2 linked regions of the Homo sapiens genome follow. The protein of the gene in region 2 purifies or fractionates together with the protein of the main gene of each other region. This does not show direct contact. Each region holds a gene or a part of one and is shown on either strand. Other genes may lie near its edges.

Region 1 (3,500 bases), on a different chromosome or scaffold from region 2:
CACACTTAAGGCTGAGAAACTGTATACTTCCCCCAAAGACTGGGAATAACACGAGGATGTCCTATCTCACCACTCCTATTCAACAGTGTTCCAGAAGTCCTAGCTAGTGAAATGAAGCAAGCAAAGGAAATAAAATACCTTAGGAAGAAAGGAATAAAGTGGTCTTCATTTGCAAAAGACATGATTGTTTATTTAGGAAATGCTAAAGAATTAACAAAAAAAACCCCCTAAAAGTAAAAAGTGAGTATAGCAAAGTCACAGTATATAAGGTTAATATACAAAAGTCAAATGTTTTCCTATATACTGGCAATAAATGATTAGAATGAAATATAAAACTAAAAACACCATTATCATAGCACAAAAAACACTTATAAGTCTAACAAAATATGTAAATGATCTGTATGTGACAAATTACAAAACTATGAAAGAAATCAAAGAAGGTTTTAGCTAGAAAAGGATAGTGGAACAGGACCTCCCCAGCCCTTGTCCTTCACAGAAACACCAATTTAGCAACCATCTATGTATAAAAGTGCCCTGATGGGTCCAAGTAGAAGGCTGTGACATCCTTCTGGAGTCCAAGACTGATAGAAGCCATTTTGAGAAGGCAGAATCATGCCCCAGTAGCAGGCATGTGACTACAGAACTGGCTCCAGACCCAGCAGCAGCCTCATCAGCATGTGGGCTTCAACTCACCTGTCCAAGGTCTCACAGGAAGACTTGTTTGTCTGGGAACCCAGAAGGAACCACACCCACCCAAGCCCCAGTAACAGGCCCACAACCGCAGACCTGATTTTGAACATGTAAGCAGACCCACAACCTGGCTCCACCTAAGTGACTGTGGTTTGGAAGTCAGTCTCACCAAGGGACCCAGCAAGAGAAGATCTTCATCTACTGAAATCACTCTGTTTAGTACAGAAGTGGGAACTGCTCCTTCAAATGTACAGACACCAATGAAAGACTCAAGGGATTATTAGTAAATACAACATGCCAAAGGAAACCAATAAGGTTACAGAAACTGACTATAACAAGATGAAGATCCATGATCTGCTTGACAAAGAATTCAAAATAATCATCTTAAGCTCAATGAGCTACAAAAACAAACAAACAAATAAACAAACCCAGATAGAAAATGAAATAAAAATCAGGAAAACAATACATGAACAAAAAGTTCAATAAAGGAGAAGCATAAAAAAGAACCAAACAGAAATCCTAGAGCTGAAGGATACAATGACTGAACTAAAAAATTCAATAGAAGGCTTCAACAACAGACTCAATCAACCAAAAGAAAGAATCAGCAAACCTGAACACCGGTCATATGAAATTATACAATTAGAGGAAGAAATATTAAAAAGAATAAAAAGTGAAATGAAGTAATACTACGGGACTTATGGTACACCACTAAGTAACTTAATAAACACATTATAAAAGTTCCAGAAGGCAAAAAGACAGAGAGAAAGGGGGCAGAAAGCACATTTAGATTATGGCTGAAAACTTACCAAATCTAGGGAGGAAAATGGACATCCAGACTCACGAAGCCCAAAAGTTCCCAAATAGGTTGAAGCCAAAGAGGTCTGTACCAATAGACACTATAATGAATTTGTCAAAATTCAAAGACAGAGAAAAAATTTTGACAGCAGTGACAGAAAAGTAACTTATTTCATATAACAGAGCCTCCATAAAGGTATTGGTGAATTTCTCAGCAGAACACTTGCAGGCCAGGAGAGAGGGAATGACATATTCAACATACTGAAAGTAAAAAAAGAAACCTGCCAACTGAAAATAATTACCTGAAAAAACTGTCTTCAGGAATGAAGGAAATAGCCAGGCATGGTGGCTCACACCTGTAATCCCAGCACTTGAGGAGGCTGAGGGCAGGCAGATTGCTTGAGCTCAGGAGTTCAAGACCACCCTGGCAAACATGGTGAAATCTTGTCTCTACAAAAAATACAAAAATTAGCCAGTCATGGTGGTGCATGCCTCTAGTCCCAGCTACCTGGGAGGCTGTGGTGGGAGGCTGACTTGAGCCCAGGAGGTTGAGGTTGCAATGAGCTGAGATCATGTCACTGCACTCCAGCCTGGGCAACAGAGCCAGACCTGGAAAAAAAAAAAAAAAAAAAAAAAAAGAAAAGAAAAAGATAAAAGAATAAAGAAAACATGAAAACTTCCTCAGATTAAAAAACTCAGGGAGTTTGTCACTTTTAGACATGCCCTAACAAGAAATGCTAACAGGAGATCTTCAAGTTAACTGAAAAGATACTAAACCAACAGTATGAAAGCATATGAAAGTATACATCTCACTGCTAAAAGCAAACATGAAAACAAACATGGAATATTGCAATACTGAAATCTGTGGCACGTAAATCTCATTGAACACTAGTATATAAATTAAAAGACAAAAATAGTATGAGTAACTACAACAACCACAGAAATTTGTTAATAGAAACAATATAGAAAGAAGTAAAATCTGAAATCAATTACATACATTGGTGAGGAAGAGGGGGGAGAAGTGTAGAGATTCTGAATATGAATGAAGTTGTTACTAGCTTTAAAAAGCCTGCTATGACTACATAATATTTGATGCAAACCCCATAGTAACCAAAATAAAAAGTATAGTAAATAAACAAAAAAAAGAAAAAAATCAAAGCATTCTACTACAATCATCAAATCACAAAGACAACAAACAAGAGAAAAACAGGAGAAACAGAAAGCAAATAGAAAACAATGAATAAAATGGAAACAATTAAGTACTTAATTATTAAAAATTATTACTTTAAATTTTTAATAATTAAGGGCTCTCAGTAGACATGGAATGGCTGAAATGGATAATAAAAACAACACTCAACTATACGCTATCTACAAGAGACTCTAACATTTAAGGACACACGTAGGCTAAAAGTGAAGGGATTGAGAAAGATATTCCATGCAAACTATAACCAAAAGAGAGCAGGGTGGCTATCTATATCAGACAAAATAGACTTTAAGTCGACAACTGTCAAAAGAGACAAAGAAGGCATTATATAATAGTAAAAGGGTCAATTCAATAGAAAGATACAACAACTAAAAATACATATGCACCCAACATCAAAGCACCTTAAAATATACAGTGAACATTGACAGATTTGAAGGAAGAAATAGATATCGATACAATATAGAAGGAGACTTTGATACATCACTCTCTATAATGTACAGGTCATCCAGACAGAATGCCAACAGCAAATATTGATAGAATTGGAGGAAGAAATAGATATCAATACAATACAGAAGGAGACTTTGATACGTCACTGTCTATAATGTACTGGTCATCCGGACAGAATACCAACAAGTAAATTGCAAACTATACAACACTATAGACCAAAGACCTAACATGCATATACAGAACATGAGACCCAACCATAGCAAAATAATCATTCTTCTCAAAAGGACATGAAACATTCTCTATAACTGATCACAGCCTAGGTCACAAAACAAGTCTTAACAAATTTAAGAAGACTAAAAACATT
Region 2 (3,500 bases):
CACCTGACCTAGCATTTTAATTCTAGGGAACAAAAATGGTATAATCAGGCCAAGCACAGTGGCTCACACCTGTAATCCCAGCACTTTGGGAGGCTGAGGCGGGCAGATCACCTGAGGTCAGGAGTTCAAGACCAGCCTGGACAAATGGCAAAACCCCGTCTCTACTAAAAATAAAAAAATTGGCCAGGCATGGTGGCACATATCTGTAGTCCCAGCTACTTGGGAGGCTGAGGCAGGAGAATGGCTTGAACCCGGGAGGCAGAGGTTGCAGGGAGCTGAGATCTCACCACTGCACTCCAGTCTAGGCAACAGAGCAAGACTCCGTCTCAAAAAACAAAACAAGTCCTGGTGCGGTGGCTCATGCCTGTAATCCCAGCACTTTGGGAGGCTGAGATGGGTGGATCACAAGGTCAGGAGTTTGAGACCAGCATGACCAACACGGTGAAACCCTGTCTCTACTACAAATACAAAAATTAGCCAGGCGTGGTGGCGCGTGCCTGTAATCCCAGCTACTCAGGAGGCTGAGGCAGGAGAATCGCTTGAACTCGGGAAGCGGAGGTTGTAGTGAGCCGAGATCACGCTACTGCACTCCAGCCTGGGCAACAGAACGAGACTCTGTCTCAAAAAAAAACAAAAAACAAAACAACAACAACAAAAACAACAACAACAACAAAAAATTAGCCGGGCATGGTGGTTCGTGCCTGTAATCCCAGCTAGTTGGGAGGCTGAGGCTGGATAATCACTTGAACCCAGGAGGCAGAGGTTGCAGTGAGCTGAGAAGATTGTGCCACTGTACTCTAGCCTGGGCAACAGAGCAAGTACTGTCTCAAAAAAAAAAAAAAAAAAAAAGGTATAACCTGATACCAGCTTTCAATAAGCATTACAATATTTAGTAATTCCAAGGCAGGTATACAAGGTTAATAAAAATATTAGCTTTAAATATAAAATTGCTATAATATTTTGCTTGGAAATAAAAATTAATGACAATTAAAATATTTCCAAATTTCCCATCTAAATGCTTACATTATGAAGACATAAACCCACTGGTCAATTCATATGCATTAATTTACATATTTAAGTTACTTCATTTGCTAATCAATTGATTATGTTTTCATAACATCATGTGGATTAAGTAATAGCATAACATTCTATAATTCCTCATAAAGGACAATTCCTCATAAGAGTTGTCAACTCTTAGCACAGGTTAATTTAAGAGTCAATAGTGGGATACTACAGAAAGCAGTTCACATAATTTTATAGGACTGGGGATCAGATAAAATTGAGAGCTATAAAAAGATGATTCTCACTTACTTTAGATTCAAGTTCAAGAAGATCAGAATGGCCCATAGCTGGCTCTGAAACTACTTTTTGTAAAAAATGTAATTCCTTTTTCTTATTTTCTAATTCTTTAGGAAATTTTTCAGTTACCATATATAAATTAAATTTTATCTCCTCCTCTAGCCTCTTCATTAAACCTTTAAAAATAAAATAAATAAATATTCAGCCCAAAAGAGTAGGTACAGTGATATTCTGTATACTATTTTAAATATAAGACCTGGATACGGCATATTTGTTGAAAACAAACTGTATAATATATAGCATAGTACAATAAAAGATTGGCCATTGAAATATTTTATTGTTAATTACAATGAAAATGAAGAAACATAATTTACATGGAAGAATATTTAAATAATTATAGAAAAAGTGCTATTATGACCCTTTCAAATTATAACCTAATTCTTTTATATCCCGCAATACGCAAAAATAACATGTGCTGAGCCAGATACATTGTTGGGTCATATTTTACCTTCTAAGCATTTAAGAGACCCATGAACCAAATGATAACACAAATAAAATCTAACCCAGGTGCTCTTTTATACAGATGATCATGTATTTTTTTTCTTTTGGAATACTTTTAATGCTATATATATACATATGTATTTTTTATTTTTTTGAGATAGGGTCTTGCTCTGTCACCCAGGCTAGAGTGTAGTGGCACTATCTCAGCTCACTGCAACCTAAACCTTCACAGCTCAAGTGATCCTCCCACCTTAGCCTCCTGAGTAGCTGGAAGTAGCTGGCATCACAGGTGTACATCACCACGCCTAGGTAATTTTTGTATTTTTTTTTGTAGAGACGAGGTTTTGCCATGTTGCCCAGGCTGGTCTCTAACTCCTGGGCTTGAGCAGTCACCTGCCTCAGCCTCTCAAAGTGCTGGGATTACAGGTGTGATCCCAGCCTCTCAAAGTTCTGGGATTACACTGTACCCAGAACAATTTATATTTCTATTATAACAGTTCATAAATGATAATTCATTATCATTTGTCAGCTTCAAGCCAATGAAGACATTACTAAAAGCACCACAAGTTAAAATCTAAAAAAGAGTAACAGGCCAGGTGCAGTGGCTCACGCCTGTAATTCCAGCACTTTGGGAGGCCGAGGTGGGTGGATCACCTAGGTCTAGAGTTCGAGAGCAGCCTGGGCAACATGGCAAAACCCTGTCTCTACTAACAATACAAAAATTAGCCGGGCATGGTGGCACATGCCTGTAGTCTCAGCTACTTGGGAGGCTGAGGAACAAGGATCGCTTGAACCTGGGAGGAAGAGGATGCACTGAGCCAAGATCGTGTCACCATCACTGCACTCCAGCCTGGGGGATAGAGGGAGACTCTGTCTCAAAAAAACAAAAGAAAAAAGAAACAAAGTATCTACCTACACATAAATGTTTTAAGTTTTCCATGTTTTGGTATTTTTTATTTTGTAAAGTATTATTAGTTTACAGTTAAGTGGCAATTTATATTTTTAAGATTTTAGTTTTCTTATTTTTGCAGTTGGACAACTATACACACAGATTTTCAGTGAATAACCATCTTGTTTTAAATTCCCAGCCTAGAGAGATTTACAAAGTTTATTTCATATCTTTCCATTTACACATTTACAAATTCTGACTTGAATGTTTTTTGTTTTTTGTTTTAGATGAAATCTTGCTCTGTCACTCAGGCTGGAGTGCAGTGGTGCATTCTGGGTTCACTGCATCCTCTGTCTGCCTCCTGGGTTCAAGCGATTCTCCTGCCTCAGCCTCCTGAGTAGCTGGAATTAGTCGCACACTACCAGCTCGGCTAATTTTTTGTATTTTTAGTAGAGACAGGGTTTCACCATGTTAAGGCCAGGCTGGTCTGCAACTCCTGACCTCAAGTGATCCGCCTGCCTGGGCCTCCCAAAGTGCTGGGATTACATGCGTGAGCCACTTCGTCTGGCCTGGCTCAAATTTTTAACACATGGGCTTTCTGGTTTAAGTAATCTGTGTAATAGATTGCATAATACATCTGGCCCAAAGCATAATACATCTGGCCCAAAGCCTTAAAACTATTTTTAGTTCCATCGTGCTAACCATATATTAACATGTAAAATTTTATTAACTGCAAATTCTAAGTTTTCCATTCATTACTTCACTATTCCTTCTTTTTTCAGGATTAGAGAAAGGAAGAGAAGAGAAAGTG

Evidence for each region.
Region 1: the proteins of IFT81 (region 2) and CEP44 purify together in Homo sapiens (affinity purification with mass spectrometry; 3 studies listed by BioGRID and IntAct, with this or other methods). This does not show direct contact.

What each region holds. Positions count from the first base shown.
Region 1 is NC_000004.12:174,290,411-174,293,910, reverse strand, and holds part of CEP44 (centrosomal protein of 44 kDa), read right to left. Parts: intron 1-3,500. UniProt on the Homo sapiens protein: Centriole-enriched microtubule-binding protein involved in centriole biogenesis. In collaboration with CEP295 and POC1B, is required for the centriole-to-centrosome conversion by ensuring the formation of bona fide centriole wall.
Region 2 is NC_000012.12:110,141,357-110,144,856, reverse strand, and holds part of IFT81 (intraflagellar transport protein 81 homolog), read right to left. Parts: intron 1,476-3,500; coding exon 1,312-1,475; intron 1-1,311. UniProt on the Homo sapiens protein: Component of the intraflagellar transport (IFT) complex B: together with IFT74, forms a tubulin-binding module that specifically mediates transport of tubulin within the cilium. Binds tubulin via its CH (calponin-homology)-like region.